Homo sapiens: one gene and its partners. The gene in region 1 interacts genetically with each later gene. Each region holds a gene or a part of one and is shown in the gene's direction. Other genes may lie near its edges. The genes, in order: EIPR1, TMED10, CLEC16A and ARMH3.

Evidence for each region.
Region 2: changes in EIPR1 (region 1) and TMED10 are lethal when combined (synthetic lethality), as found in Homo sapiens cells (one study listed by BioGRID).
Region 3: changes in EIPR1 (region 1) and CLEC16A are lethal when combined (synthetic lethality), as found in Homo sapiens cells (one study listed by BioGRID).
Region 4: changes in EIPR1 (region 1) and ARMH3 are lethal when combined (synthetic lethality), as found in Homo sapiens cells (one study listed by BioGRID).

Annotation. Positions count from the first base shown.
Region 1 is NC_000002.12:3,255,800-3,262,839, reverse strand, and holds part of EIPR1 (EARP and GARP complex-interacting protein 1), read left to right. Parts: intron 1-5,384; coding exon 5,385-5,541; intron 5,542-7,040. UniProt on the Homo sapiens protein: Acts as a component of endosomal retrieval machinery that is involved in protein transport from early endosomes to either recycling endosomes or the trans-Golgi network.
Region 2 is NC_000014.9:75,173,590-75,180,792, reverse strand, and holds the start of TMED10 (transmembrane emp24 domain-containing protein 10 precursor), read left to right. Parts: upstream 1-4,180; 5' UTR 4,181-4,213; coding exon 4,214-4,438; intron 4,439-7,203. UniProt on the Homo sapiens protein: Cargo receptor involved in protein vesicular trafficking and quality control in the endoplasmic reticulum (ER) and Golgi.
Region 3 is NC_000016.10:11,178,556-11,182,718, forward strand, and holds the end of CLEC16A (protein CLEC16A), read left to right. Parts: coding exon 1-135; 3' UTR 136-3,631; downstream 3,632-4,163. UniProt on the Homo sapiens protein: Regulator of mitophagy through the upstream regulation of the RNF41/NRDP1-PRKN pathway. Mitophagy is a selective form of autophagy necessary for mitochondrial quality control.
Region 4 is NC_000010.11:101,845,076-101,850,190, reverse strand, and holds the end of ARMH3 (armadillo-like helical domain-containing protein 3), read left to right. Parts: intron 1-298; coding exon 299-415; intron 416-2,570; coding exon 2,571-2,663; 3' UTR 2,664-4,592; downstream 4,593-5,115. UniProt on the Homo sapiens protein: Involved in GBF1 recruitment, Golgi maintenance and protein secretion.

The DNA of each region.
Region 1 (7,040 bases):
CTCTTCTCATGAGTGACACGTGGCACTTGGTGCCCCATGGCCAGGAGCTCCATTATCAGGACCCAGAGGCATGGTCAGAGCTGTTTATCAAAAGACATGGTTCTGTGCTGCAGATGGCATGGCTTGCTCCAGAACCCCGGGACCACGTGGTGACTCCAACCGGGCTCTCCACAAAGTCCACACTGCATGCTTTCTACCACTGACAACTTCCACACCAGCAGGTCTACTAGGCGTCCCCAGAAGCAGGGCTGCCTCTCCCCAGCCTGATCTTGCTGTAGTGCCCTCTTGGCCTAAGCTGGCAGCCTTACGTGCTACCCCAGCATCTGGGCTGGTCCAGCCTTCCTAGGTGTATAATGTGTCACCTCTAGAATGAAGAGGGCTGGCAGGCATTACAGCGTCTTTTCTGCTTTTGCTCTGGAGGGGAAGTCCTGGTGTCCTCAGCAGAAGTAGCAGGTCCTGGAATTGCCATAGCTTGTGTTTCCTGCCGTCTTGCCAAGGTCTTCTGCACGCTCCTCCTACGTTGTCACTGTAATGTCATGAATGCAGTGGGTCCATGTGATGTTCTGTGGGCTGCCCAGGTCTGTTTGGACTATATTATGATAGAAAATGGGAGACCAGCACAGCTCTGTGGCAAGAGTGTATACTGTTTTCCTTTGCTTGTGAATGCGGATGGTTTCTCATCTTCTTTCTTCATTGGGATAGGACAGCGTGCATTTGACGGTCTGTGTACACACATCATGTGCCTGAGGGCCTGGGAATCTGCTCTAACAAGACTCCACAGCTGGCACTGTGGATCTGAGTGGGCTCCTGCTTTGTTGAGCTTAGAGTCATCCACAGGCATTCTCCAGGGCCCATTAGCTTTCTGCAGAAGCCAATGGTGAATTCAGCAAAGCCACACCCACTTCATATCCTTGATTCTTAAAGTAAGCGCAGGTCTCTACCACTCTTTGATGGGTTGGGACGGGGAGGCAGTTTCAGAGGCTTCTATGTGACCTTCCCATTAACTCCACAGGTCACAGGCCCGGTATGGGTATTTCACAAACTGCCCAGGATGTCAATCCCATTTGACCTTAACAGACCTTGGAGTTGCCCACCAGGTGCGCCCACAGACTCAGAGGATCTGCGGTAAGCCAGGCCCTGCCTAGGACTTTACTTATCACCTGGCATCCCCATGCCCCACTCGGGCCGGAGGACAGTGGGACACTGGGTTGCTGGACCCCTGTGCGTGTCTTTGTGTTCAGCAGACCTGGAAATGTGTGGGGATTACCCTTTGCCCAGGGAATGGCATTCAGGAAAATGGCCGTGGGTCCCTTTGGGTACAGACTAGGGTAATCATTGCAGTGTACACCTGCCCTAGGGTTGCAGGTTCCTAACCCGTGGGGAATCTGACCATCTTTACCGTCAGTGGGTTCCAGCTCTGAAGCTGCCTCAAATCTGGATCTGGGTAAGGGATTGTGACTGTGAGTGGGGTGACTTCCCTCAGCCTTCTGCTCATTCATTCTTGTTTTCTTTTTAATATGTATGTACGTTATGTACGTTTGCACTCATGTGTGCATGTGTCAGGCAGGCAGTACTCTCCTTGAATGCCTTGTCTGTTTCACCCCTAGGAATACCAACTCTATTAACTGTCTCCACAGCCCTCTGCCAGTTGAGCTTCCTTGGCCGGCACTCTGGTCTCGTTGGTCATTATGATAATTGCCACCCCCTGACTTCTGGCAGTTACATACCGTCACCCGACCACATTTACTTGGGGCTGGGTTTAACTGCCCAAGTCAGAAAGCTGGACAAAGCTTATTATCAACAAGCCAAGCTTTGTGACAGCTTCTTCTAAGAGTGGAATTATTGGGTCATCTGGTAAGTGAATGTTCAACTGCAAAAGTGTTTTCCAAAATGTGTGTACTGTTTTACACTCTTTTTTCACAATCCGTGAGAGATCCAGTTACTGTACATCTTTGCCAATACTTGCTATTGTTGGTCTTTTTTAAATGAAAATTTCACCACTCTAGTAAGATGTGTGGTGAGTCTCACATGGTTTCACTTTGCCTCCTTCCAATTATTAATAATGTTGAGCATCTTTTCTGGTGCTTGTTGACCATTCATATGTTTTCTTTTGTGAAGTGTCTGATTTGGCGTAAGGTACATTTAAAAAAATTGGGTTGTTTCATTATTAAGCTGTGGGAGGTCTTTATATTTATTCTGGATACAGGCCTTTTGTCAGATATATGTATTATAAATATCTCCCCCAGTCTGTCTTTTCTTTTCTTTTGTTTTCTTTCTTTCCTTTCTTTCCTTCCCTCCTTCCCTCCCTCCCTCCCTCCCTCCCTCCCTCCCTTCCTTCCTTCATTTTTTGAGATGGAGTCTCGCTGTGTTGCCCAGGTTGTAGTGCAGTGGCACAATCTTAGCTCACTGCAACCTCCACCCCCCAGATTCAAGCAATTCTCTTGCCTCAGCCTCCCAAGTAGCTGGGATTATAGGCGCCCACCACCATGCCCAGCTAATTTTTATATGTTTAGTAGAGACGGGGTTTCACCATGTTGGCCAGGCTGCTCTCAAACTCCTGACCTCATGATCCGCCTGCCTTGGCCTCCCAAAGTGCTGGGATTACAGGCGTGAGCCACCATGCCCGGCCACTGCTTCATTTCTTTAATAGTGTCTTTCTGAAAGCAGAGTTTTTCATTTTGATTTTAAAGAAGTTTTAAATTTTAATGAAGTCCAATTAATAGGGTCTTTTGGTGAATAGAAGTTCTTAATTTTAATAGATTCTATGTTATTCGTCTTTTTCTGTATGATCCAGCTTTTTTTCCTGCCATTTAAGGAATCTTTGCTTGTCCCAAGGCTGAGAAGATATTCTACTATGTATTCTTGAAAAGATTTGTATTATTTTATCTTTACGTCTTTATCATCAGTCTAGCTGGAATTGGTTTTTGAGTATGTTATGAGGTAGGATACAAGTTTATTTTCTTTCATATGGATATACAATTGATCCAGCATCATTTATTGAAAAGACCATCCTTTCTCCACTCTTGAGTGTTATTTTTGTAGTAAAACAAGTGACCATCTTTCTAAGGGTCTGTTTCTTTCCAGCTTCCAAAACTTCATTGCTCTTCTATCCTTGTGGGTTTATGTTTTTAAAAGAAAATAGAAAGAAAAACCCCTCTTTGTTACAACATTAGAAGGGTTTCAGAATGGAGTAAAAGTTGAAGTGAGTGTAGATTCTCTTATCTATATTTTCTTGGAGGTTCCTCCATTGCCTTCTCTACTCTGTGAAGTTGATGGACTGTGGGGAGAGAGGTGAATAGCGCTACATGAACCGGATACGTGGAAACTTCATTGTCCAGCTGGTCACTTAAACATTGTATCTGGTGTAGACTTTGAAGGGAGGTAGCTTACCTGAGAGTGGAAAATCTTACTTCACCTGTACCACTTTTGCTTTATTGAGGGCAACGTGGATATAGTTAAGGAGTTTGGTGAGCTGGCGTTTACAGGAAAGTCACTTTCTTTACACCTGAACAGAATTCTCCAAAGAAGGAACTTGTTGGGGATGTGGGGGGGAGTGTCTGCCATTAGTCATTTCTTCCACAGAATAGCTGTTTTTACTATTCCCTGCCTTTGTCATCTTGTGTATTTCATTCATTTTGAAGTGCAGCCACAATTTAGTGCTCCCATTATTAGTTCTATAACTTGTAAGATTAGACATGTATTTTTCTACCATTTAGAAAGATTAAGATAATCTACACCTCTGTTGGGTTAGTGTGTGCTAGTGGGTTAGGCATTCATTTTTTTCTTTCCTACTCCAAATTGCCAACTTTCCCTTTGGTTATTTTTGTGTTTCCAGGAGTGCCATTGCCAATCTCGTGGGCTCTGCAGAAAGATCGTGTAACTGAAAATTTCAGCAAATAAATAAATAAATAAATAAATAAAATTCCCTTGTAGACAGAACTGTCTGTACACTCCATTTTTGTAAAGTTGGAAGTGTGAACATTATATGAATATATGATGGAGTTTTTTTTCTTTAAGCCATAATTGCATGTTCTTTTAGACCCAATATGGTATATAAAATGGTCACTGAATTTGGAATCAGAAAATCCTGGTTGAAGTCTTAATCTTTTAACTTCTTATCATTCAATCATGGTTAACAATGGTATTAATAATATTCACAAAGTTAGATATTTTGTCATTGAGTTCGTTGCTATATTGCTTGGTCGATTAGTTGATATTGAGATCGCAAGAGCATCATCACCAGTAAGTGATACATTTTCGATTGTAACCTAAGGTCGTTGTTATTTTGTAATGCCATGCTGTTTTCCTTCTTGTACTACCCATGAAATGTTTTTTTATGTTCTAACGCAATATATAATATTTTTATGTTCTTCACTTGTTATCAATTGATGATTTAATGTTGAATCCTGTTTGCTAGTTTATGATTATTCATTAAAGGCCATCTTTAAAAGGGAGAGGTGTTTAGCACATATTCAATTGAAAACTAAATGGAAAGCAAATTCTGAAAGGATTTATGTTCAAGAATTCAATGTTAAATCTAATTTTTAAAAAATTTATCATATTGAGAAATTTTCTAGAGCATCAGAGACCTTCCTTGGAAACAAGTGACCCCAGTCTTTCTAATGCAGGTTGAGTCTCTATCCACAAAGTGGCTTTTCTAGGTACTCTAGATTCCTGGAGCATCTTGAAAATAGAGTATCAAGACTCAGGGAGACCGAGCAGCCACCAGCAGGATCGTGTAAGGATGGCACTCTCATTTCTAGGAGAAGAGGCTGTATTGATGGTGACATGACCAGGCTGGGCTGCCACCTGCTGCCCACCAGGGCTCCAGGCCTCAGCATGCGATGCCTCTGAATGGCATTACCTTCCGGTCCCAGATACTCATCACTTTAGGTAAACTGAGGCAGAATAACATGCGTGACAGGATTTCCGAATGGAATATCGCTCAGTGTGCCTAATAGTCATTTAAGGTGATCTCATACAGCTATGGAGAGAAAACCCGTTTAATGCCAACCTTAGACACCAGCTGCGTGCGTGGTGATTATATCTTTAGTCCCCCATTTTGCTCCCTTTTTTGAAGAACTATTGAAGAAGAACGGAAGGAAATCGATTTTGAGGAAATTAAATTTTCTTTTGAAACAGCATGATGGTTTTTAAAACAAAGAGAAAGTGGGGAACAGGATGCTGATTACGAACCGTGCCGGGTTCTGCCTGCCGACTCAGGCTGTGCTTCTCCCTGCTCCGTCTTTGCTGCCTGCAATCGTACATATTTTAAAGAGCAGATGCGCGCTGCTTATGGATTTGTGTAAATGTGCGTGTGCTGTCTGCAGAATGCGGGGCACACCGTGCTCTGTTGACATTATCCATTATGCTCTGTTGCTCAGCTTCAGACAGCAAAGTCCTGACATGTGCAGCCGTGTGGAGGATGCCGAAGGAATTGGAATCAGGCAGCCACGAGTCCCCTGATGATTCATCCAGCACTGCACAGACCCTGGAGCTGCTCTGTCACCTTGACAACACAGCCCATGGCAACATGGCCTGGTAGGATTTTGCATATTTCATGCGCCCAGAACGAGCCTGCAGGTTGGCCAGGTGCAGGAGCTTGTGCAGATTCCTTTGCAGGAGCCACCGTCCACACCTCGGAAACGCTCCTTTCTTTTAAAAAGCTGCGAGAATTTGATTTTTAATTTTAGTCCCTGTGTTTTCTAGATTAGCCGCATTGACAGAAATGTAGCCAGCGCGCCTGCATCCCCACTTTCTCCTCTTCATCTAAGAGGAGTGTTGCCCGTGGGGACCTGCCAGAGGGTAAAGGGTCAGGCACTGCACTGCCCTCGAGCGCTGTGTGGCTTTTCAGCTTGGTCAGCATGCACTTATTCACACTCACATGGCAATTATTTACCACTTCAGGTTGAGGCTTACAATCCCTTCCTCCCGTGGACAAAGCATGAATGCGTGGTGTGCCTGTGGGGCTGCGTGCCCAAGCCCGCCCGTGTCCGGCATGTGGTGTGTCATTCACGTGGCTCCCTGGCCAGTCGCTGCTTCATGAGCTTGGAGGCCTGGCTGTGTGCACCCACTGGTCATTCCCAGGGACCTCTCCACGGCAGTCACAGCTGCTCTCTGAAGGCCCTGAGGCCTTGGTAAAAATTAAGAAGCCGTATTTTCTAAAGGAGATTGCGGGGGCATACTGTTGTTATGAGTGTTTACAATAACGATAGTGATTGTTTTACTTAATGCATTAACACATACACATGTGCGTGTGTGTCTGCAAGAGACAAATCGTTTGTACAGTGACTTCTGTCTCGTCAGTTCTACCAATTAAATAAATTTAATACAACAAATACTTATTAAATACCTGCTACAGAAACCCTGCCAGGCTCCAGGGACACCAAGGTGACAAGTTAGAGGGCCCGGCCTCCGAGAGTCATGATCTCCACGGGGAGACCCAGGGTGTACACAACTAACTGTGGCTGGGCCAGCCGTGGCGTACCCCGAAATCATTACGAACTGTACGCTGTGGCCCCGGAAGGAGCAGCCATTAATTGTTATTAGAGGAATTGAAGAGGGATTCGCTTACGAGGTGGAGTTTGGAACGGGGACTGAGGACCGACTCAGGTTTCCCTCGTCAGGTATGGAGGAGAGCAGTGCTGAGGGTCAGGCAGTCTGTGGCTCCGGATGCTCTCTGTGTATCAGTTTGTGGTGGAATTATTTTTATACTTGCTGTGCTTCTACCACGTCGGTGGATATTTCTTCTTACGGAGATGCTCTGAGTATTAAAATCACAGCCAGTCTTGCACAGTAAGGGGAGGCAGATGAAGAGTCCCAAAGTCCCCAGGAGTGATTGCCACTGCTGTCACTCCCCGCCCGAATGCAGGATCTCTGTGCAAACCACACAGCACTGTTAGGAGTTCCACATTTCAAATGATTGCCACATCCCCAGCAAATAGACATTTGTGCGCATGTGTGTGATGCACATGTGCACACATTTGTGCTTGTGTCTCTGTGCACACGTATGTGTGCACATTTGTGTATGTGTTAATGTG
Region 2 (7,203 bases), on another chromosome or scaffold:
CCACACCCAGCCAATTTTTGTATTTCTAGCTGAGATGGGATTTCACCATGTTGGCCAGGCTGGTCTCGAACTCCTGACCTCAAGTGATCTGCCTGCCTCAGCCACCCAAAATGTTGGGATTATAGGCGTGAGCCACCGCGTCTGGCCCAATGGTAACTTCTTTTTTTTTTTTTTCTTGAGATGAGTCTCGCTCTTTCGCCAGGCTGGAGTGCCATGGCGCAATCTCAGCTCACTGCAACCTCCACCTCCCAGGTTCAAGCAATTCCCCTGCCTCAGCCTCCCAAGTAGCTAGGACTACAGGCACGTGTCACCACGCTGGGCTAATTTTTTGTATTTTAGTAGAGACGGGGTTTCACCATGTTGGCCAGGATGGTCTCCATCTCCTCCTGACCTCATGATCCGCCTGCCTCAGCCTCCCAAAGTGCTGGGATTATAGGCTTGAGCCACGATGCCCGGCCGGTAACTTCTTTAACACAGGTGCAGGCTTAAAAGTCTTGGTTCCATTCCACAGCATACAGAGGAGAATTGTTTTTGTTTGTTTGTTTTTCTGTGTCCTTATATAGAAACAAGAGTGTATTTTCCATTTTTTTTAAGAAAAGATAGACATGTTGGTGACACTGAAACTGTACCTATGCTTTAGATACATTATGGATTAAACAAATTTATGTGAAAACAGCTAAAGAATAATGGGAGAAATTTGTGGTTGCGCTTTCTAAGGTACCAGTCTTAAATTCATTGTACCATTATTTATTGTACCTAAGTGCTAGGCACTGTTTTAGGTTCAGAAGATAAAACAGTGAAAAAATAGATAAAAATCCCTGCCCTCACAAAACAGACATTCTAGTTAGGGAGACAGACTAATAAACACAATAAGTAAGTAAAATGTATGCTTTATTTGATAGTAATGAGTGCTAAGGGGAAAATTATAAAGGAGGGAAGAAAGACAGGAGGTGTTGGAGGATGGGGATAAGTAAGACTACAGGACAAGAAAGGACTGGAAGCCGGGCGCAGTGGCTCACACCTGTAATCCCAGCACTTTGGGGGCTGAGGTGGGCAGATCGCAAGGTCAGGATGTTCAAGACCAGCCTGACCAACATGGTGAAACCCTGTCTCTTCTAAAAATACAAAAATTAGCCGGGCATGGTGGTGCGCGCCTATAATCCCAGCTACTCAGGAGGCTGAGGCAGGAGAATCACTTGAACCCAGGAGGGGCAGGTTGTGGTGAGCTGAGATCGCACCACTGCGCTCTAGCCTGGGCAACAGAGCCAGACTCCATCTCAAAAAAGAAAAGAAAGGACTTGAGAGCTGTGACACAGAAAAGTAACTGCTGTGCATCTGAGTTTCTTCATCTTTAAAATAAGAAATAATAGCATCTTCCTGAGGATAGCTCAGGCCCCTAGACTGCTTTTGTCACTTTTAAGCTTATGAGGTTTGGGGTACTGACAAAGATTCTCTCCTTGACCAAACTTTACCCACGCTGTTCTGATCTGTCTTCTCAATAGGCTCTGACTTTTGGACTTCCATGACTCTGCATTGTCCAATTTTAGGAAGAATCCTGCTAAGTTAGTTTAGCCAGAATCTCCCCTTACTCCCAATATTTCCTTTTAGTAATTTTCCATCCACTGACCCTGATTTTTGGCTGTAAATCCCTACTTTTCCTTGTATTTGGAATTGAGCCCGATCTCTCCTTCCTACTACAAAACCCCATTGTCATAGGCCCTTGTATTACCTATCTTGGCAGTCCCCCTTGAATAAAGATTTGCTTTACAATTTTTTTTTTTTTTTTGAGAAGGAGTCTCGCTCTGTCGTCCAGGCTGGAGGGCAATGGTGTGATCTTGGCTCACTGCAACCTCCACCTCCTGGGTTCAAGCAATTCTCCTGTCTCAGCCTCCCAAGTAGCTGGGATTACAGGTATCCACCACCATGCCCGGCTAATTTTTTGTATTTTTAGTAGAGATAAGATTTCATTATGTTGGCCAGGCTGGTTTCGAACCCCTGACCTCAAGTTATCCGCCCGCCTTGGCCTCCCAAAGTGCTAGGAGTACAGGTGTGAGCCACCGCCTCTGGCCTGCTTTACAGTTCTTTAACAAATGTCATGAAGTATTTTTTCTTTAACAGTATAATTATTTGGCCTCTCAGAACCTCGGTTTCCTCATCTGTAAAATGAACAGATTGTCCAGACTATTTCACAGGGTTTTTGAAAATGTCAGAGGAGATCATTATGATATGTGAAAATATTTTAAATTGCATTATCTATTATGTAAATGTAAGATGGAAATTTAAAGGAAACACATACACAGTTTTTTCATGGGTTGAGATCTCTTGCTATTGGTCAGCAGAGCCTCAGGAATGCAAGTAGACAATGAATTAGATAACTGCTTATACTGATTCCCTGCATTGGCAGGGAAAAGGCCAATGCAAATTATCAGGATGTACTGTGTGGACTACCAATCTTATCTTAGATCAGTGATACAACAATCCAACTAAATGCTCCTAAGTGGACACCTCATAAAATAATTATTGTATGGCATTTGTCAAAATTTTAAATGCTTTACAGCTCCTTTGTTTGTTCTTGTTTTGTCTGTGGGATTTCATTTCTAGGAAAATAACTAAATGGACTAAGTTTAAAAAAAAAAAACACCAATCATGTACATTACTAAGGGCAGACAGTCCATCTTCTGGATATTTCTGAAGATGCTCAATAAACGTTAATCAAAGTAGGTAATGATTCCCAACATGGGCTATTGTGTCTTCCACGTTTATTTTCTACACTTGATGTTAGCCAAAAGGCCAAGGAGCAATTCCATTTTCTTTCTTTCCTTCTTTCTTTTCTGAGACAAGTCTCACTCCGTCGCCCAGGCTGGAGTGCAGTGGCGCCATCTCAGCTCACTGCAACCTCCATCTCCCGGGTTCAAGCAATTCTCTGCCTCAGCCTCCTGAGTGGCTGGGATTACAGGCGCCCGCCACCAAGCCCAGCTAATTTTTTTGTATTTTTAGTAGAGACGGGGTTTCACCATCTTGGCCAGGCTGGTCTTGAACTCCTGACCTCGTGATCCACCCGCCTCAGCCTCCCAAAGTGCTGGGATTACAGGTGTGAGCCACCGCGCCTGGCCGTTTATTTTAATATATTCTTCAGCTCTGAATATTTGCTAGTATCCCAGTAATAGTTTGTTAAATCAATAAACGTGTTGACATACATGCATAGCATAATGTCTGGCACACAGTAGGTACTCCATTGAATGAATGCATGAATTATTACCGTGTCAATTTGCTTGTCTATTTGCAAATGTTAATAGTTAATTTGATCCCTAAAGTGTTTGTGAACTTAAAACACACACATACGCACTTTCCCTGACAACGCTTATCTGCTAACCCCTTAATTATGTTCATCTGAGACTGGACCAAAACATGTTGTTTTATTCAATTTAAATACCAAATTCAAATTTATTTTGAATATAGCTTAGAACACATTCAATGTTTGCTAAAATAATAATAATAATAATAATAATAATAATAATAATAATACCATGTACATTCAGTTAGCCAGACAATTACTCCAGCCCAAATACCCTGCTATGGGACATGAACCGGATGTCTGCCCGGCACACATTCATCAGGTGACCCCTAAAACTTCTTCTCTAAGGTCCACACTGTCTAATAGCCAAGTTGAAATCTTTCCTCGAAATTTTCCTCTCTAGTGTCTCAGTGCCCCAGGTGTCATCAAGGTGTCAAAGGCGCTTGGGAGTGCCTGCAAACCGCCCCATCCCCGGAGACACAGCCTCATTCCCCGCCCTCGCGCCTAGGCGGCCGGTGGGCGGGCCCAGCGAAGGGCCTTGTGGCTGTTTCCTATTGGGGCTTGGTTGCTATGGTGTCACTCGCCTTTAAACTCGTGGGTACATCTTTCGGAAATTAAAGGAGAATTACTTCCAGGGCTGCCCATACTTGCCATGGCCGACTCAGTAGTCACTAACTTCAACAAAAATAAAACTGTTGCAATAGTATTCTATTAAAGCTTCTTTAACTGCTTAAACTTGCGGTTTTGACATGGTACCTATCCTTTCTTCCCTTTTCAAAAGATTCGCTATAGAGTCTTTCTCTACATGCCAGTCTCCAAAATGGCGCGGACGGCATCAGAAGGTCAGAGGTGAGTCACGTGGGTCCCCCCGGTTCCGGCGCGGTTGAGGCCTTCGGTGGTGAACGAGTCTCCAGCACCATGTCTGGTTTGTCTGGCCCACCAGCCCGGCGCGGCCCTTTTCCGTTAGCGTTGCTGCTTTTGTTCCTGCTCGGCCCCAGATTGGTCCTTGCCATCTCCTTCCATCTGCCCATTAACTCTCGCAAGTGCCTCCGTGAGGAGATTCACAAGGACCTGCTAGTGACTGGCGCGTACGAGATCTCCGACCAGTCTGGGGGCGCTGGCGGCCTGCGCAGCCACCTCAAGGTGCGGCATTGGGCGACGTGGGGCCGGGAGGGAAGACGGCAGGCTTAGGCGAGGGGAGGCTCGGGTTCGGGGGAGTCGGGCCGGCGGAGGCCTGGGAGTTGTTCTGGCCTCCCGGGAGCGCAAAGGACGTGCGGTGGAGCCCGCCCCCTCACCCCGCTGGTTGCCTGTCGCGGGGCGGGGCGGGTCACCAACGCCTGGGAACCCCAAGAAGGGCTGCGAGGCTTTGGCGGATGTGGTGACACCTGAGCTGGGGCGGTTGTCAACGTCCTATACCAGTTTTGGTCTCAGATACATTGAACCGTAATTTGGTTCTCCAAATAAATGTTGGGGTGTTGAATATTTATACGGATTGGCATCATAAGATACCGCGATACCTGCAGGAAAGTAAAGGAGACAGAGCTAACCGTGATTAATAAAATGTTATTTATTGAGCATCTGCTGTGTCAGTTACTGTGCTACTTTGCATATATTACCATTTGGTTCATGCACTACCCTATGAAGTAGGTAGGTACTGTTAGCCCCATTTTACAAATGAGGAAACTGAGACTCAGAGGTAGGATAAACTAGTAAGTGTCACAGATGGAATAGATTCTTTTTTTTTTTTCAAAATTATTATTATACTTTAAGTTCTAGGGTACATGCGCACAACTTTCAGGTTTGTTACATATGTATACATGTGCCGTGTTGGTGTGCTGCACCCATTAACTCGTCATTTACATTAGGTATGTCTCCTAATGCTATCCCTCCCACCTCCCCCCACCCCACGACAGGCCCCGGTGTGTGATGTTCCCCACCCTGTGTCCAAGTGTTCTCATTGTTCAATTCCCACCTATGAGTGAGAACATGCGGTGTTTGGTTTTCTGTCCTTGCGATGGAATAGATTCTTACTTAGTTTGGTAGTTAAGTATGTTGAGGGAAAAGCGCTGCAACCTTATTCCTTCCTTGTTTTAAATTTGTAATTTCTGTAGTTGATTAAAGTCGATTATTGGTTACAAAATGGTCTCAGTCTCTAGTCCTTTTTCTTTGGTATGCCAGAATCTGGACTTGGCTCTTTTATGTAAATACCAACTATGCTCTTGGATGGTGACAACTACTGCCATAATACCAGTTTGATTCTGTTTTGTAGCTAAGAGTAGCCTGGCCTGGTCTTTGAGACATTAATATAATTTGATATCTGTCAGTATTTGGTTGCATTTTAGGTAATTTTATTCATTCACAATAAGCAAAGTGTCTTTTTTTTTCTTTGTAACACAATGGGGCTTTTGTTATACTAAATAGAAACATTTTTACTTTTTTTTTTTTTTTTTTTTTTTTTGAGACGGAGTCTTGCTCTGTCGTCCAGGCTGGAGTGCTGTGGCGCGATCTCGGCTCACTGCAGCCTCTGCCTCCCGGTTTCAAGCAATTCTCCTGCCTCAGCCTTCCGAGTAGCTAGGACTACAGGCGCCAGCCACCACACCCAGCTAATTTTTGTATTTTAGTAGAGATGACGGTTCACCATGTTGGCCAGGATGGTCTTGATCTCTTGACCTCGTGATCTGCCCGCCTCGGCCTCCCAAAGTGCTGGGATTACAGCCGTAAGCCACCGCGCCTGGCCTCGTTTTTACTTTTTAAAAGGGTTTCAGATATAATAAGACCATAACTTATGTTAAAGTAGTGGAACCCAGTAGTGTGGTAATACATGTAATTTATTTCTACTTTATTTGGGAGAGACAAACTATTTTCAGGGCAATTAATCTGTGACCCATCATTTTATTATTCTGTTTGGGTATCAAACTCTCTACCCAGGAAAATAGTGATGGCATGATTTTAGAAGCTTAGATATAGTGTTTCCGGGGTGGGAGATCATGCTTCCAACTCTTCAGAGGATGTTCATGGACTCAGGGAATTTCAGCAATGAAAGAGACCTTGCTCTCATCTCGTGTTGCTGTCTGATTTGTTCTTATATTTTAAAGCCCTTCAGTGGCTCACTATTGCTTATTGATAGTTTAAATTTCTCAACATGCTTTGTTGTGCTCTTCATGATCTGTTTCTGAGCTATACGTGTGGTCACTTCCCACTTTGCATTCTACATGGAGCCACCCTGGACAGTACCCTGAACTCACTTATTTTCTGAACTGTTTTTGTTTATGCCTTGACCTACTTACTAGACTGTTAGTATCCTCAGGGTAGGAACTATTTTCAGGTTCATCTTTTCTAGAATGCCAAGCATGTTACCTTGCTTCTAGTAAGTACTCTATAAATAACAGGAACTGTAGTTTAGCATGGCCTTATGGGAATTACATTGAATTTAGGGCTGCTGAAGGCACCTCAACAGCAGGACTTTAGGCCGGGCTTGGTGGGTCATGCCTGTAACCCTAACTCTTTGGGAGGCCGAGGCGGGTGGATCACCTGAGGTCAGGAGTTCAAGACCAGCCTCAGCAACATGCTAAAATCCAGTCTCTACTAAAAATACAAAAATTAGCTGGGCATGGTGGCGTGTGCCTGTAATCCCAGCTACCCGGGAGGCTGAGGCAGGAGAATCACTAGAACCTGGGAGGCAGTGGCTGCAGTGAGCTGACACCGTGCCACTGCACTCCAGCCTGGGCAACAGAACAAGACTCGGTCTCAAAACAAAACAAAACAAAGCAAAACAAAAACCAGCAGGACTTTGTGCACACACCCTAGCACTTTACTATCACTCAGTTGCTCTCCTGTGTCTGCTCTGTTCTTTTGCTACTAACCAGCTTAATGGAACCACAAGGGTCCTAAACCCAAATGCCAAATAG
Region 3 (4,163 bases), on another chromosome or scaffold:
GTCCCCCCAGTTGACCCCCACAGCCTCCGCAGCCTCACCGGCATGCCCCCGCTGTCCACGCCGGCTGCCGCCTGCACAGAGCCCGTGGGCGAAGAGGCTGCATGTGCTGAGCCTGTGGGCACCGCTGAGGACTGAGTCAGTGCCGGGGCCTCCCTTTGTGTGTGTGGCCCCGCTGGTAGGGACCCCAGTGCCGCTGACTGGCAAGACACACTGGGAGCACCCACCATTCTGTGCGGCCCCCAGCAGCCATCTCAACCACCTATCCCTGCGCTCCCTTGAATGGGAAGAAGCCCCACGTTGTCCTTGAATTCCTTTTTCACTTTGCATCTCTTCACGTGCAGGCTGGGACCAGCGGAGACACCGCGGCGAATGCAGATGACTGCACCGGCCACTCAGGGAGCTGCCTGGGCTCCGTGTCTCTGAGCCCCGGGTGGCAGGACCCACCGGCACCTCTTTCTTCCTCTGTCATATGGCTCCTCTGTCACCAGCCCCAGTGTGCACAGAAGAATTGGACCAGGTCACTGTACGTAGAAATTTGTAGAAAAGCAGACTTAGATAAACATCTCCTTTGGATATTTATTTCCGCTTTTGGCAGCAGGTGAACATTTATTTTTAAAACTTCTATTTAAAAGAAGTCCAAAAACATCAACACTAAGGTTTGATGTCATGTGAAAAGTGTAATAATAACAGTTAAGATTTCATGATCATTTTCACTGGACCTTTCCTGATATTTTGTTTCAGAGTTCTTAGTGTGGCTTTTTCCATTTATTTAAGTGATTCTTTGTTACTCACTAACTCTGCAAGCCTGTGGAATAATGAAGTACCTTCCTGGAAAGTTTGGATTATTTTTTAAACAAAAACAAGGGAGATACATGTATTCTCAGGTACACACAGAGCTGAGAGGGCTGAATGGTTTTCTGCTATAGCAGCCGAGAGGCCTCCCATCATGGAAAGATTTCTCCAGGAAAAGGAGGAATGTAGCCAGCTCCCCACTCAGGACGCTTCCTCATTTCTCTTCACCAAAACCAAACAGAGACAGCTTCCAGCACCTTCTTCAGTGTTACCATCTCTAAGAAGGAACCAGTTGGGACCGTGAAGACTCCCGACCCTGTGGCCATGATGGAAATCAAAGGAAGACACCCTCTACGTCACCTGCCCTCGACTGTGTGTGCCCACATGTGCCGAGAGATGGCCCAGAGCCAGTTCCCCTCCAGCTGCAAGGGCATGGTGTCCCCAGAGCTCTGAGTCTGTCACTCTCCCTCTGCTACTGCTGCTGATCTGAATATGGAAACCCCATGGTTCCCTTCCCCATTCGGACTGGGTGTGTACAAGCAAGGACCCAGATGCATCAGACACAGCCCCCAAGATGTTCCTTTCTACTCGGCCAGCTCGGGAGCCAGACACAGCACTCACAGCCCAGGCCGTGATCCACCCTCCCCAAGTCCACCAGGGCCAGCGGCCCCTCACCTCTCTGGTCACTGGTGAGACCTTCCACAACTTTCCTCCAGACCTGCCAGCAGATGTGCCCACCAGGGGCATTAGGTATCCGCCGGAGCCTGGCCATAGGGTAGTCTCGGGAGCCGCGCTGAGATCTTTTGCCACCTGCATTTTAGAAGAACATGGTCTCTGTCTCCTCGGCCCAGCCAGCTGTCCCGGCAAGGCCTGCCGAGGGCAGTTTTCAACCTCATGAAGGAAACACAGTCCTGCCAAGGAGGGGGAGTGGCGCCCATGGGGACAGGCCTCAGTCCTTAGAAGCCCTCTGGGTAGCTGTGCCCACCCAGCCTTCATGGCTGCAGGTACAAGGACCTTTGCTTCCATAGAGAAAACGCACAGCTCAGAAAGGGGGCCACATGGGCAGAAACCCAAAGGAAGGACAAACCACGACCACCGTGGCCATCTGCAGAATCCCTGGAAGAGAAGGAAGGCAGGGTGGAGCGGGGGGAAGACCATCATGGAGAGAAGGACCACAGCATCAGGAGACGGGACACGCCACACCCAGCAGGCAGCCTGTGTGTTGCTTAATTTTTTAAGAGCAAGAGGGGTAGAGAGGATCAAGCTGGCCCTGGCTGGAGATGGCTAGCCCCTGAGACATGCACTTCTGGTTTTGAAATGACTCTGTCTGTGGGGCAGCAGAAACTAGAGAAGGCAAGTGGCTGCCCCACCCCAAGGCGTGACCAGGAGGAACAGCCTGCAGCTCACTCCATGCCACACGGGTGGGCCACCAGCCTGCTGTCAGAAGTCTCTGGGCTCCAACTGGTCTTGTAACCACTGAGCACTGAAGGAGAGAGGTCTTGGTCAGGGCTGGACAGCATGCCCGGGAGGACCAGCAGAGGATTAAAGGTGACTGGGAGGACCAGCGGAGGATAAAAGACACTGCTCAGGGCAGGGCTTCTACCCTGCATCCCTGGCCAAGAAAAGGGCAGTCCCCATGTGGGCTTGCAGGGTCACTCTCAGGGGCCTCTTTCAGCTGGGGCTGGCAACTTGCGTCTGGGGGACACCTCCAGGTGTGTGGGGTGAGGATTTCCTATAACCAGGGCTCCCAGAAGCTTTGCTTATGTAAGGAGGTCTGGGAGCCAGCCCATTGGAGGCCACCAGCCATTTTGGCTTCAAAGGACCCCACCTCACCCAGGTCTCAGCGGCAGTGGGCACAGCTATGTCTTCAGGAGCTCCCGTCAAACCTCATAGCTGGGGCGCTCCCAGACAGGCCAGTCCAGACAGGACACGCTGGGCCCCTGGCATCCAGAGGAAGAGCCAGGAGTGTGGGAAGGCCCACAGTGGGGGCTGTGGCTTCTGACACTCAGGTCATAGCCTCAGAGGTCTGAGGTCAGCCCCCACAGACCCATCCGGCCCGCCCCCCAAGTCCCTGCAGAGAGCACTTAGAGTTATGGCCCAGGCCCTGGTCCACCCTTCCCCTGTGCACCTCCGGCTGGGTTTGCCAAGTCAGGGAGCAGGGCTGGCCGCAGGAACTCCCAAACCTTGGCTTTGAATATTGTTGTGGAGGTGTGCTCGTCCCTTTCTGGACGTGCAAGGTACCTGTCCCAGCAGGTCAGATGGGGCCAGCTGAGGCGCTCCCCCAGGCAGGAAGGGCCAGCCTTCACCATCGCGTGGGATTGGGAGGAGGGGCCTCCGTGAGCAGCCCCTCCTCTGCCGCTGTCCCAGCCCAGTCCCTCTCCCGGAGCCTTGGCAGCCTCCCACAACCCAGACACTTGCGTTCACAAGCAACCTAAGGGGCAGGTGAAGAAGCGCAGCCCTGCCAGACGCGCTAGATTCCTCTAAGGTCTCTGAGATGCACCGTTTTTTAAAAAGGCGTGGGGTGAACTGATTTTGATCTTCTTGTCTAGATGCAATAAATAAATCTGAAGCATTTAATGTAGTCATCTTGACATTGGGCCTACACTGTACGAGTTCCTTATGTTTCCTTGAGCTAAAAATATGTAAATAATTTTTGTCCCAGTGAGAACCGAGGGTTAGAAAACCTCGATGCCTCTGAGCCTCGGGACCGCTCTAGGGAAGTACCTGCTTTCGCCAGCATGACTCATGCTTCGTGGGTACTGAACACGAGGGTGGAAATGAAAACTGGAACTTCCTTGTAAATTTAAACTTGGCAATAAAAGAGAAAAAAAGTTACCAAGAATGTAGCGTGCTGCTCCTGGGGGCTGTGGCAGGAGGCCGTGGCCTGGCACAGGGGAAGGTTCCCAGCCAATGACCCCTCATCCCGGCGCAGCTGCTTGGCAGGGGTGTGGTGGCTGGAGCCCCTCCCTCTCCCTCCTCCCCGCACCAGGTTCCCTCCCATCCCCAGGTTCCTAAGAGGTTGTCGGGGCTCATACAACCCGGGAATAACTGCTAAGGGGCAGTTGGCACCATCAGGAAATGTCCCCGCCCTACCCCTGCCGGGTACAGGGAGCGTGGTCCACATTCTGCATCTTTTCCCTGTTGGGCAGGTGGCTGCCCATCCAAGCCTCAGGCTCTGCATCTGTGGATTTGGACAGCCAAGCCCTACCTCGCAGGACAAGCGTAGCGAGCAGCGTCATTGTTGCCAGGCTGGGCCGAGGGAAGCAGGAAGGCTCCCCACCGAGGACAGAGGTGAAGTGCGGGGGTGGACATGACTCGGAAACACCAACGTCCACCAGCGTGAAACCCTGAAATCCCTGGAAACAGGATCA
Region 4 (5,115 bases), on another chromosome or scaffold:
GGGAGGCAGAGGTTGCAGTGAACTGAGATCACGTCACTGTACTCCAGCCTGAGCGACAGAGCAAGACTCAGTCTCAAAAAAAAAAAAAAAAAAAAAAAAAGAGAGAGAGAGAAAGTGGTCCCAGAAACCTGAGGCATCGCTCCCTGTAGCCAGGCTGTTTTCTGGAAGATAAGTAATAAGCAAGGTTTCTTGGGGGTGTTGTCACAGACCAAACCCAACCCAGTAGATCAGCAGAATGGGGCTCAGGGTTGTGGGATTTGCATGGCCTAAGCCCTGCCTGGCCCTTGATGTCCTCCAGGTGCTGGAGGTGGTGAGAGCCAACTATGACACGCTCACGCTGAAGCTGCAGGATGGCCTGGACCAGTATGAGCGCTACTCAGAGCAGCACAAGGAAGCTGCCTTCTTCAAAGAGCTGGTGAGTGCCCCACCGCCTCTGCCTGTGTCTTAGGGGCCCGCCCCCAGCCACTGGGTTCTGCAGTTTATCTGCAGTTTATCTGCAGATAAAACAAGACTTGAGGGGTCTGCTGGGATGGGGTATGCAACTTCTCTCCCCCATTGTACCAGGCAGTAAGAGAAGATGCTATTCGAGGTAGTATTGCCTACTTCTCCTTTGCAGCCATGGAGACAGCCCTTGCACAGCTCCAGCTGGGCCTGGGGTTTGACGTGTGTTCCCAGCAGCAGATCTGGCTCATTATTCCTTAACCTGTCCTCAGGGCAACTAATAAAAGTAATTAATTCTTCCCCTTCTTATGGAATCACGTCTTCCTAAACTCCTAACTGGCCGCTGGTCTGAGTCCCCTCCCAATCTAGTTCTCCAGTCTCCATTCCCTGCTTTCCAATCACTTAGCTTCCTGCAGCCCCCACCCTTGGGCACTTGGAGCCATGAGCATTTGCTCTGCCTCCTACTTAAGTTCCCAGTCAGTGTCTCCACAGAGCTAGCCCTATTGATGGTCCCTTTCCTGCCCTGTACTCTGAGCTGTTCTCAAGAAAAGCTCAGCCCCCCTGCAGTCCTGTAACCCTACCAGCTTGGTTTACACAAACATCCTGGCTGGGGACTGAGACCAGGACCTGCAGGCCTCTGTACCCACTTCCCCTGTCCTTAGACCTCCCTCTGCTGGGGCTGAACTTGCGTCAGCTCAGCTTTTACTTACCCCATGCCAATTGTGGTGAAGGCACTGCGTATTAGATCGTTTGTCTTGTGCTAAACACAGCCCAACTCTGATCCTGACATGACATTCCTCAGGATTTTGGACTTCCACAGGGTCAGGAAGACATGCTCTGGGGTGAGTTAGTTTGGAACACAGAAACCATTAGTGTAAAGTGATAGCAGAGTGGAACATTTTTATGGGATGGTTGGCAAGTCTTTAAGTTGATGTGGAGGAAGTTCTGGGAGCAAATGGTTAACAGAGAGCAATCTGTGAGGAGCTGGAGAGGGTTACGGGAGCGGTGTCTCGAGGCTCTGAGACACTCACCACGGCCTTACTCAGTTCTGCTCATATTTGTTCCCCTGGCACAGGGGAGCAAAGAGGGTCTGGTCCAGTTTGGAGCTAATGAGCTCAAGTTTCCTGCTGTTTGCCATGCTGCCCTTTCCTCTGCTTCCTTCCTGATGACTTCATTAAGTTTCCTATAGCATAGCAGAAATTGAAGGAAAGCTCCTGAGACTTTGGGGCCCAGGGCAGACACACTCTCCTCCTCCTTCCCCTTTTTGTTTCTCAGGCAATCTACACAGCTATTTCCTGTGGGGAAATCTCCTTGAAGAGTCTGCCAGATTCCTCTTGGAACCCTCTCAGAGTAGGGACTTGGGCCCTCTGACCCTTTCTCTACAGGCTTTTACCCTGCTGACCCAGGCAACACTGGGTTAGGGTTCTGTGGGTAGAGAGTATGTGAGGTGAGCAGTGGGCACACAGCAAGGATACGCCCCAGACTTTCCTCTCGAGTGGGCAGGCATCTTTAGAAGGAGTGCTAGACTAGGAGTTAAGAACCCTCGGCCCTGCTCCCAAGCTGGGACTCACTAGCAATGTCACCTGGCCCTGGCCATTGAAATTGGCCTCCTTGGATCCTACTCTTGCCATCTGTGCCAGAAAAGGACTGCATCTCTAAATGCTCCTTCTAACCCCAAAATGTAAATAAATCCAAAGGGAGAGTGAAGAGACTAGAAACACATCTAAAGAGAGGTGGTGCTAGAGCATGAGTCTTCTGGCCTCAGTTTCTCCTCCTCCATCAGATCACTGAGCAGCCCAGTCCCCCTTCTGCATAGCCAAAGCAGAGACAGATGTCAGCCTCAGCCCTCCTTTCTTGTCTGTGCCTGCTTCTACCTCCCCAGGAGCCCAGATGCTCTTCTTACATCCTCCAGAGTTTGTTCCTGTCCACCCCTCTTCTCTCCTTCCCTGCTGTCAAGGAACTGTTTGCTCATTTGCCTGCAGGGATAATAGCTGTTAAGGGTTCATTTCCTAAGAGAGAGACTTCTAGTGCCCCGTGTAGCAGGCACTGTCCTCTGCCGTTTAGAACTGACTCTCTCCTGTTTTCTCTCTGGCTGCGCCCTCCCACCTTCCCCAACTACCCTTTCCCAGGTTCGATCCATTAGCACCAACGTCCGGAGAAACCTGGCCTTCCACACACTCAGCCAAGAAGTCCTGCTCAAGGAGTTCTCCACTATCTCCTGAGGCCACGCCTACCTGAGCAGCCTCTGACTGCCCTTACCCATGAGGATCATGGGCTGGAGGGGGAGCGAGGGGAGAGGGGGCTGCCCCCGAGGTTGGAGAGAAACACAGATACCAAGTTCTCTTGGTGAAGACCGCACTTCAATGGAGCTTGGGCAGCAGGGGCAGGAGGGTCAAGCCAGGGATAATCTTATTTGGGGAGGAATGGGTGGGCACAGTGGGGAGAGGCCTCCAGGAATGTGGGGACTTCCAGAGTGGGCTCCCTAAACAGCCCCTCACATTTCCAATCTTGAGGTTACAAGCTGTAGCTACTGACTAATTTTCGGGAGCTGGTGAGGCAAGCCTCAGGGTAATGCCAGCACCCTGAAAGTCAGTGGCTCTGCTCGGCTTCTGAAAACAGATCAACTCTCAGATATAGCTGGAGCTACATCCTGCTTCCTTTGGGCCTGGGGCTGTGCTTGGCTTGAAATCTGTGTCCCCTGCCTGCACTGGCACTTTGTCCAGTCATCGGGACCTTTGGCTCAGATTTAGGGTAAGATAGGAATAGGGTACCTTTTTCCTTTTTTTTCTGAGACGGAGTCTCACTCTGTCGCCCAGGCTGGAATGCAGTGGCGTGATCTCGGCTTTACTGCAGCCTCCGCTTCCTGGGTTCAAGCGATTCTCCTGCCTCAGCCTCCCGAGTAGCTGGGACTACAGGAGCGTGTGCCACGCCCGGCTAATTTTTTGTATTTTTAGTAGAGATGGGGTTTCACCATGTTACCCAGGATGGTCTCAATATCCTGAGTTCATGATCCACCCACCTTGGCCTCCCAAAGTGCTGGGATTACAGGCGTGAGCCACCACACCCAGCCAGTTTTCCTATTTTCTGAATTCAGAATTGACTTCTCTGGGAAAACTGGAGATGAGAATCTGCCCAGTGCTCTGCTGTCCAGTCACCGCCTTTTGAATTTTAGTTTTGGCACCAGGAGTACCGTTAGCTTTCCCCTTCTTCTGGCCCATTTGACTCATCAGCACAATAGGGTCACCACCTTAACTTTTAATTTCTAATCTGCTTTACTGTCTTTAGGGTGTGTATGAAATAAACATTGACAGGCTTTCTGGAGCCCTCAAGGTGCCTACTTTGCTGGTTCCCTTTCCAGCAGCTCCCCCACCTCCCTTAGCCCCCCCTCCTCTGGCAGCCTCTCCTGCCTCTGCTGAGCTCCCCTCCACGTGTTCCACCCCCTTACCCTGCTGTTGTTTACATCCAACCTGCCTGAGAATTTCCTCTGGGGAGGAATCTATTCCTGTCATGGTCTAGTGCCTGGGAGGGAGAGAACTTTCTGGGGGTAGGGTGCCCTCCATCTGAAACAGGCCAGGTGAGCATCATGCATAAGGCCTCCATTCTGTCCGCTCAGATTCTGGGTGGGGCCACAGGCAAATCTCCTGACTTATGGGGAGTTGGCTTGTGGTTCCTCCCTTGGATAGCCTCCATGGAACCACTATAGGCTTTCCCAACAGCTGCCTCTGAAATAGCTGCTGCTTCGAGATCCTCCCTTTTTAAAGCACTTTCTAAAGCCCTCAGGATGGCGGGAGCAAACAGCACTGGTATATTCTAGGAGTAAGTGCAGGAATTCAGCAGTGAGAGCATGTCTGGGACCACCTGGACTGCCATCCATTTAACCTCAAATCTCTTTGGGATACTCGCCCTCCCTGGGAACCAGAGTTCTGGCTCTAACATTGAGCAGCTATGCACTAGTTCCAGAGAAGCCACTAACAGGCTGCCATGTGTAGATGTAGGTTCTTAAGAGATCACAGGCTGGGTCATCTGATCACTGGATGGATAGCTCAGCCTGGGGCATTTAGTGTTTTCCCTGGTGATAAATCCCCAAGGCAGCTGGATTTGGAGCTGGTGGCAAGTTGAAATTATTAAAAATTGATTTGTGTGGGACTGTCTTTAGTGTTGCTTTTTTTTTCCTTAATCTCTGTTGCCCAGACTCATTCCTCAAAGATAGAGGTAAGGTAATCTCCTAGGTGCTGCTGCCATCTGGCTAGGGGACCCCTACCTGCCCTTGTGAACTCTCCTCCTTCCTCTGAGTCTCCTGGCCCTAGTAGAGGTCAGTTGGGTTCGGAGAGCTGTAACCTCTCTTGTCCTCTGGGTAGAAGGAGGGAGAAGAGAGTTAGTTCCCTTATCTCCAAACTTAGTGGTATTGAGGAGGCAAGCCAACCCATTTGGCCACTTACGGATTCCTGCCAGCCTTTCCTCCAAGTGAATGAGGACAGGTCTAGGGCATGGGGCACTAAGCAGAGGGCTCCTTGCCCTCCATTGTAAAGGCCCTTCTCTTGACCAGTTTATTCACATATACCTATCCCAGAACTCCAAACGAGAGTGCCCATTCTCTCCTGGAAATCAACCTTAACAGGAGCTGCCCAAGCACTTTCTATGCCCAGCCTCTATACCAGGTCTGTGGAGCCTCCT